Linked DNA regions of Homo sapiens: region 2 is linked to region 1. Evidence: fine-mapped expression QTL. A gene starts in region 1. The other region holds a variant in brackets. All regions are shown on one strand. Distances are between the middles of the regions.

Region 1 (4,404 bases):
TGCTGTGTTTTATCTTTCTCTGTCTGATTTGGATGTTTACTAGTCACGCAACTTGGAGTAAGTTAACCAACCTTTTTTCGCTAAGCTTATTTCATTATTTGTTGAATAGGGCTAATATAGAACCTACATCATAAAAGTGTTGTTAAAAGTTTATTGAGAAGATGCATGGATTAGCATACCTAGAAATGGGAAACACATTTTAGCCATAAAATTACATCATAATTTTCATACTAGTGTTTTACATCCTGTTGCTATTGTGTTCACTTGAGAAGACGTTATAAACACCTTTCCATGTTCAAAGATAGACTTTCCACCATCATCTTAATGGTCTTGGGTAAGGTGATATGACCTCTGTAAGACTGTTGTCTCACGTGACTATCACATTATAAAAATATGCCTTCCATTGTTTCATTATTTGTTGAACTCACCTACTCAACAAATAATGAAACAGTGTAAGGCATATTATTATAACGTAATTTTTAAAATATTTTGTTTAAGGACCTAAAATAAATTCTATATGACTATGTGAGGCAACATTTTTTTTTTTTTTTGAGACGGAGTTTCGCTCTTGTTGTCCAGGCTGGAGTGCAATGGCGCGATCTCGGCTCACTGCGACCTCTGCCTCCCAGGTTCAAACGATTCTCCTGCCTCAACCTCCCGAGTAGCTGGGATTACAAGCACCTGCCACCATGCCCAGCTAATTTTTTGTATTTTTAGAAAAGACAACGTTTTACCATGTTGGCCAGGCTGGTCTCGAACTCCTGACCTCAGGTGATCCACCCGCCTTGGCCTCCCAAAGTGCTGGGATTACAGACGTGAGCCACCGCGCCCAGCCCAGTGTTACAGAATATAAAATAAATGACAATGTGTGTCAAGTGTTTAACACGAAACACAGTTAAGACTAAAGAAGTAGAAGACTATTTTATTTTTCTAAGCTGGGGCTCACTGCAACTTCCAACTTCTGGGCTCAAGCAATCGTCTCGCCTCACTTCCAGCATAGCTGTGACTACAGAGGTATCAATGCGCCTGGCTGATTTTTAAATTTCTTTTTGTAGAACGGGGTCTTGCTATGTTGCCCAGGCTGATCTTGAACTCCCGGCCTCAAGTGATCCTTCCATCTCGGCCTCCCAAAGTGCTGAGATTACAGACTAAGCAACCGCATTGGCCAGAAGACTATCTTATTTTGTCTCATTACACTCTCTTATCCCAGGAATTTCACTGACAATTTAGGTATCAATTTTGACCTCACATGGATTAATCAGGTATCTCTTGTTTTGAGCATCCAGCACTTACTATTCTCCAAACCCGACTGATCATTTTATCCTCCTACACACACACACACACACGTTACCATGTTTCTAAAGAGGCATGGGTTAGAAATCATCGTAAATTGCTACAATAAACCAAATGAGATATTGTTATCACTTACTGGAAAAAAGTATTGTGGGTACATGTCCTACTGACCAAATTCTGACAGGAAAAGCAGCAAACCATCATTCAGAATTTCAAATGGTAAATATACAGAGCCTCTCTTATGCCCCAGCTGGACTGGGGAGTAGGGAGAACCTAATTTTCTCAGTCTCAAGCACCTTAGTGTCCTACACCCCCATTCGAGGCAGAAACTCAGGATCCTGCAAATTCATTCATATTAGTCTCCCACTTCAGATATCAGAGAAAATAATTAACTGGGATGGGTGGGGCTGGGAGGATCAAAACAAATTTCTGTTTGGGAAGTTCTACCTCTCCCCGCTCAGTATGCCCCTCAAAATTCCCCACTCTCCCCTTCCTCTTATGTAGGGGTGTCACTCACATCCGCCATGATGAACCCCCTTCTCTCGCAGGATCAATCTCCACGCCTGGAAGAGAAACTCCCGGTGACTCTTCCCTCTTTGGCTTCCTCGTCCTCCCCACCCACAACTTAATACGCGAGATCAGCCCTGGTCAGAACCAGGTAAAACCCCCGCGGTTCTAGGGCTTGGCCCAGCGAGCCCAGTGGGAGTCGGAGTGCCCCAGCACCCCCACAGGTACTCAGCTGGCACACCTTACCTCAGCCCACCCCATCCCTGCCCCTCCACCCCAAAGAGCTAGGCCCAAAGAAAAGAAGAGAGGGTCCTCTCCTTCTGTTTAATCTCACCACCCGCGCCACCTGCGGGACTAGGCCTCAAAACCAGGCAAAGTAGCGCCAGTTACCTGGGGTTTCTGGGCTGCCTGGTTCTCTCCGCTGTCACTTCAGGGACAGCTTTAAAGACAGGTTCCTCCTCAAGCCACCGTCACATGATTCATGACCTCGTCTGCGCTCCAGGAAGCACTTTCTAAGCCGCCGTCGCCCTACGATACGGGATTTCCGGAGGGGCCCGGCGGAAGCTGCGAGGGCGCGTCCGGCGGCCGCGCCCCTCCCCTCCCCCCCGCCCCGCACGCGCCCCGCCCCTCCCCCGCCCACCGCGGGCCGCGTCTTGCGCCTGCGCCTTGTGTCACGGGCCGAAGGAAGTCAGCTGTGGGGTAGATTTGTACGAGATCGCTGGACCCTAAGGAACCCAGAAAATGCAAGCAAGGTTATGTGTTACAAGACATTCTTGTGCAGAGAGGGTGTATAAATGTCATTAGTTTTGCAGGGTCTGTTATCTTAAAACCTTTTCTTGTAGATGAAGAAATTTGAGGGGATGGTGTGATGAGCTGAAGAGCAAGCACCAGATTGCCTGTGATTGGAAGTACCAGGTCCACAGGTTTCTGACCTGTTTCCTAGGCTCTTGTGACTTCCCCATGGGTGCTCTTTACTGAAGGCCTTACCTAGATTGAATGGGGAGGAGCCATGGGTTTTCTGGAGCACTTCAAGCGTCTACTTTTAACATGCAGACACTGATTACGGGCACCTTCTATGTTCCCTTTTACATCAGAATTTTTAAAAATTAGTAAGGTCTCATGTAATAAATAATAATTGAAAAAAATAAAAGGCTTTCCGGGTGCGGTGGCTGACGCCTGTAGTCGCAGCACTTTGGGAGTCCGAGGCGGGACGATCCTTTGAGCCCAGGAGTTCCACAGCAGCCTGGCAAGATAGGACCCCATCTCTACAAATAATAATAATAATTAAGAATTATCCGAACGTGGCGTGCACCAGGTACTCGGGAGGCTGAGGCAGGAGGATCCCTTGAGCCCAGGGTTTGAGGCTGCATCGAGTGGTGATCGCCCCACTGAACTCCAGCTTGTGTGACAGAGCGAGACCCTCAAAAGAAAAGCTTCTTTAGAAATCGCATCCTCTTTCAGCTACCACACTGTTTTTCCTCTACTCCCTTTCATAGCCAAATTTTCAGAAAACTTTAGCCTGGTTTTCAATTGCTGCTTCCATATGTCACAAATCTAATCAGAGTTCTGTTGATTCTACCTCCTATCTTTGAAAACTATTCACCTATCTATATTCCTACCCTACTCCAAGCCATGATCATCTCTCTTTTGACAACAACCTCCTATTCTTCTTACATTCTCTTTTGCCCTCCAGTCTCCACACAGCAACAAAAATGATGTTCTAAAGACCCAAATCACATCATTTAACTCCTTCCTTGAAAATCAAGTTTATTGACTTAGGATAAAGTTCAATATCAGCATCATGGTTTATATATCATTCTTATGGGGATCTGGCCCCTATCTTAATTCTCTCACCTACCCTGGATTCCTTATGCTATGATCATACAAGTTTGTTTTCACTTCCATAAAGATTTTTATCACTTTACCAACTTAGCACGTTCTGCCTGAGATATTTCTCTAGCATACCTTAATCCTACTAATCTCATCTTTTGCATTTTGGCTTAAACTCACTCTCAGAGAAGCCTTCCCTGACCCTCACTGAATAGTTTAGGTCTTCTAGATAAATGCTTTCATTGTACCCTGTAATTTTCTTTGTAGAATTTATCATAATTATAATTATTTACTTGATATTTATTTTCTTTGCTAGATGTAAACTCTTTAAGGTTTTTGTCTTTCTTATTCAGTGATTAATTCCCAGCACCCAGCTCACTGCCTGGGATATAGCAAGCATTGACATACTTGTTGAATAGTTGAATGAATGAAAGAGTGGCCATATTGAGTATAAAACATGATAAAAACAAACATTTTACAGTGAGAACAGACCTTTTTATTAATATATTGAGATAAACTACAGAGACTGAAAGACAAAAATTCATATTTCATTCAGAACATTCATTAAAAATCAAATGCATTTGAGTTCTCACAGAAAATTTTATGTAAGTCTGATATAACATTAAATATTTTACAAATCAGACATTTCATTTTGAAATCTAATTTTTAATCCTGAATGCATTATAGACAAAGTAAGCTCTCCTTTACCAATTTCATTTAACTTATACAAGGCTTCCATTATAATTCCATCAAACCTTAAAAATTACCTGCAGC
Region 2 (4,404 bases), 61 kb before region 1:
CACTTCTAGGCCTTTGCTGCTGCTATTCCCTCCCATGTTATATCTCCCTGAACAACTGCGGATCCAAACCCCACCAGACTTTTAATAGGAAAAAGCCAAACTCTCTCTTTCTCTCTCTCTCTCTTTCTCTTTCTCTCTCTCTCTCTCAATCTTCACCTAAGTGCCTAGGCCAGTCCAAGTACTCAATAAGCAGTAGTTGAATAAATGAAAGAATATGGCAAATTATTAATAAGGTTATCTCTGGAAGTTGGATTAAGTAAGAAATTAGCTATTTTCTTTTTTTCTAATTAAATTTGTAGCTAACTAATATAGAAATCTATTTTTTTCATTAGAACAAGCTAAATTAGAAAAATCTGATCAAGCTAAAGTCTCCTTTGAACAAATTCTGGTTCCTTCTACAAAGAAAATCATACTTATGAATTTGGTGTATATTTTTAAAACTCTTATTTTATGTTTTTATATATCTTAATATGTAAGCATATTTTTGTTGTTGATATTTTATAGGGGAACGTGTTAAAACCAAGTGGTAACATTTGGTGCCTGCAACTAGTTCTTCTAACTTTACAATATATGTTGGGATCTATCAACTTTGATGTGTGTGTGTATACACACCTATCTTCAGTGATTCTCAGTGGTGGGGTGTAATTGACATCATGAACAAGACAATTCTTGGTTCTTCAAGACTGTATCATTTGTAGGATGTTAAGCATCCCTGGCACCCTCTCACAAAATAACAATAGCACCCCGACTCCCTGCCCTCATTATCTGGCAACCAAAAATATGCTCACAGCTTTTCAAACACTTTTGGTTAACTTTTTACATAATCTCATCCTTTTAGCACTCCACTTTATTTATCATCTCCATGTCGATGGACATTTAGGATGGCTCTAGATTTCTTACTCTTACAAACAATTCTGCAGTGAACACCCTTGTTCATATTTTCTTCTGCTCATGTATGGGTGTTTCACTAGGTGGAAACTAGAAGAGGAATCGCTGGTCATATGTGGAGGTTCAGTTACACCCTATGTGCTAAATTCCCCTCCAACTTAGACCCTTATCAACAATGGACAGTAATAGCCATTGCCCAAATTCTCCAATACTTAATACTATCCAATCCTTTCATTATAACCGATCTGGTGGATAAAGAAAAATATCACATTATTATTGTAATCTGCATTTCTCTGATTAATAGTGAGATTATTTATTTGAAACACATCTTTCCTCTTCTGAAAAACACATACTTTATCTTCTTTACATGTATATATTTTAACTTTTACTATATATGCTTTATAATCAGAATAAAAGGTAACACAACCTTAAAAAAAAAAAAACAGGTTATATTTCAAGGCCTATACAGATGTTGGCTCATTCAGGGAACCTGATTTCGATCTTTCTTTTTAGAACATCCCTTGGGTACTTTATTCTCTCTTGGATATAGTTTGCAATATGCTTGTCTTATTCTCCTGACTAGATTAATGGTTATTTGTCACCCAGTCTGAGGCTTTTCCATTTTTGTTCCCTTTGACCTGCCTAGCACAATGCCTTGCACAGATTTGAAGCAATGACTGAAGGCAGAAAAGGTTGATTATGGGAAAACTACCAACTTAACTCTATTTTTAACTTTTATGGACACAGTCTTGAATCATCCTTATCAAAGGTGGACATATTTCTACAAAGAATACAAATGTCATTAGGATATACATTCACTCCCCTG[A/G]AAGAAATGCTCATCAGAATGTTCCAGGAAAGGAATGCTTAACTCAATTAAAAGGGGAAGTTTAGGTTTTTGTGGAAAAGCTATTTGGGGAATGAGGATCCTTATTGCACCACTGACATCATGGAATGTAGGTGGCTGCCTGGAAAGCTCTATACTGGGCTTGCCCAGGCCCTGGAGTCTGTAAACTCCTGAAAAGGCAATATTGACTCAGGCAAAGCTGCCACCAAGGAATTGCAGTCTCCAAGAATTTTCCAGACTGCAGCTTAGTGTGATTCTTCTTGCATTATACTCAAGTATTTCTTATGTGTTTATGGTATATAGTTATTGTTTTTTAAATTATCATTAAAACATTATTAGTAAAAACTGTTATCAGGCTATAATTAGACGTCAAAAGAATTCTATAAATGTTTTAAACGCAAACTTCCAATTCTATTGAAAAGAATCCAAAGGAATGTCCAAATCCTTTAAATGTTTTGGAATTTTGCGAATCAAATATTGCTTTACATAAACAACTGTTATCAGGCTATATAATTAGATGTAAGAAGAATTCTATAAATGCTTTAAACACAAACTTCCAATTCCATTGAAAAGAATCCAAAGGAATGTCCAAATCCTTTAAATGTTTTGGAATTTCACAAATGAAGTATTGCTTTAAATAAACAATCTGCTGGCTCGAACTGAAACTTATGCTGAAATGTTTATTATAAAGTTAATTATTGGCAAAATATATCTAAGTTTTTATAACCTTGTGGAAATTTCACCTATCAAAAAGAATTAGAATTTTGGCTTCAGTTGAACTTGAACTTTATTATTGTTTCACTTATAATTCTTCCAATTGTTCTTTGAAAGCATTTTGTAGTGAACAGATTTGAACTTGTCTGGGAATCAGTTCAATGAATGGAGCTGCTTTGGGTAAATAGCTCTGTGTTTATTCTTATAAAATGTGTTTCATGCCATTGCTTTCAGCTAGCAAATATATTTCTAATATAGGATGAAAGCATCTCTGCCCCAAAGATAAAATATGCTAAGAAACATGCATTAGGAAATGCAGATTTAGAAAATAGGTATCTTGGAGACCTATGTAAAAACTTCCTTCCACAGGTGCACTTAGGTTTACTCTTTATTACTCAGGCTAAAAGTTTATGCCACAGGGATGTCTCAGTGGATATCAGTGTGGTTCATGACAACAAGATCCCTTAATGCCAGAATAGGGCTATTCCTCAAAGCTTTTTTACACTATACACACCTCTTTAATAGCATTTAGTTCATCACACTGACATTATTTGTATAATTGCCTGTCTCTCTTTCATCTTCACTGACCTAAACTGTGGTCCCTAGCAGTCAGCAACTGCCTCTGCTGTCTAGCTTTCTGTTATCTGATCTAAATAAAAAGTAACAAAAATTCTATTTGAGCAATAAGAAAGTCATGCCACAGAGGGTAAATTGAAAGTTACGGCTTTTTGGATCTCAATGGCTTCCTGGTAGCAATTAACGCATACTAAGCACTGCTTTAGTTGCCAGGCTTTATGGAGCACATCTCATCCATGTTAATGTGTGCAGGACTCACAACTGGCCTATGCCGTATGCCTATTAGTCATACTATTTTAAACATGAGGAACCAAAGCTCAGATTGGTTAAGTAACATGTCCAAGGCCATACAGCTAGTAAGAGGTACCACCTGGATTGGGACCCAGGCAAAGCAACCCCCGGGGCCACAATCCTAATCATCACATTTCATGCCTCTATGACATCGTTTAAAAGAATGTGAATGACCTGTTATTGGAGAAAAGAAAGATGGTGCAGAGCAATATGCCTAGAAAATAAAAATAATAAATAATGCTCGTATGTTTGTAGAATCAGGAGTGGAGGTACACATCCAATGCCTCTAAGTGTGTAGACTATCTCTTAAGAGGAAGCACAGGAAAATGGTTACCAAGGTGTCCTCTAGGAAAGGAACAGGGAGCCTGAGGGCCCAGGGTGAAGAAAACATGTTTTGCTATGTCTCCTTTTGGACAATTTGAATTTTTTTTTTTTTACCATAGATATATATTACCTTTTCTAAAACACAAATATCATTTTGAATCTCCTTGAGCATTCCCTAGCTCTTCAGATACTTGTCAGGCTGAAACAGTACTTGGTGGCATTTACTTCATACTATAATTCCTTCCATCCAGCTTCGTTTCACTCATGACAATAGCCTTTAGTATTATAGCACAGAGGTTTCGCCGTGAAAAGGTACCACACTTGAAAAAGAGTGTGAGAGACCAAAAAAAGAAGGAAATTGGTCAAAGCCTATTCTTATGGTATTTTGACTTGGACTTTAAAAACCAATTCTGATTACAAAGCAACACTGTATTAGTTTGCTAGGGCTGCTATAACAAAGAACCACAGCCTGGGCAGCTGACTATAAGAAATCGATTGCCTCACAGTTCTGAAGGCTCAAAGTCGGAAATCAAGGTGTCAACAGGATTGGTTCCTTCCGAGGGCCGTGAGGGAGAATCTGTTCCAGGCCTCTTCCTGTGGCTTGGAAGTGACTGTCATGTTCATGCGCTGTTCTCCCTGTAGGCAAATCTATCTCCTGATTTTCCCTTTTTACAAGAGGACACCAGTCATATTGAATTAGGGCCCACCCTAATGACCTCATTTTTTTTTTTTTTGAGATGGAATTGCACTCTGTTACCCAGGCTGGA

Direction of the effects. Positions count from the first base shown, and alleles are read on the strand shown. Sizes are in standard deviations (SD) of each study's normalised expression.
For the expression in fibroblasts of the gene that starts at base 2,283 in region 1, G is the low allele of the variant in region 2 and A is the other (small effect, 0.13 SD a copy in GTEx).

What was found.
Region 2: its variant is fine-mapped to the expression of LAMTOR3 in fibroblasts (GTEx, PIP 0.96).

The regions. Positions count from the first base shown.
Region 1 is chr4:99,892,145-99,896,548 of GRCh38, forward strand. LAMTOR3 (late endosomal/lysosomal adaptor, MAPK and MTOR activator 3) reads right to left here and starts at 2,283. Exons shown (of 7, transcript NM_021970.4): 1 at 2,191-2,283; 2 at 1,811-1,856. The coding sequence starts at 1,819. DNAJB14 (DnaJ heat shock protein family (Hsp40) member B14) reads right to left here. Exons shown (of 8, transcript NM_001031723.4): 8 at 4,104-4,404. RefSeq lists a silencer at 2,382-2,471.
Region 2 is chr4:99,830,656-99,835,059 of GRCh38, forward strand. All of the region lies in intron 1 of DAPP1 (dual adaptor of phosphotyrosine and 3-phosphoinositides 1), which reads left to right. Among named protein-coding and RNA genes, the nearest start is that of DAPP1, 16 kb to the left of the region's middle. The variant A/G (reference allele first, on the strand shown) is at 1,715.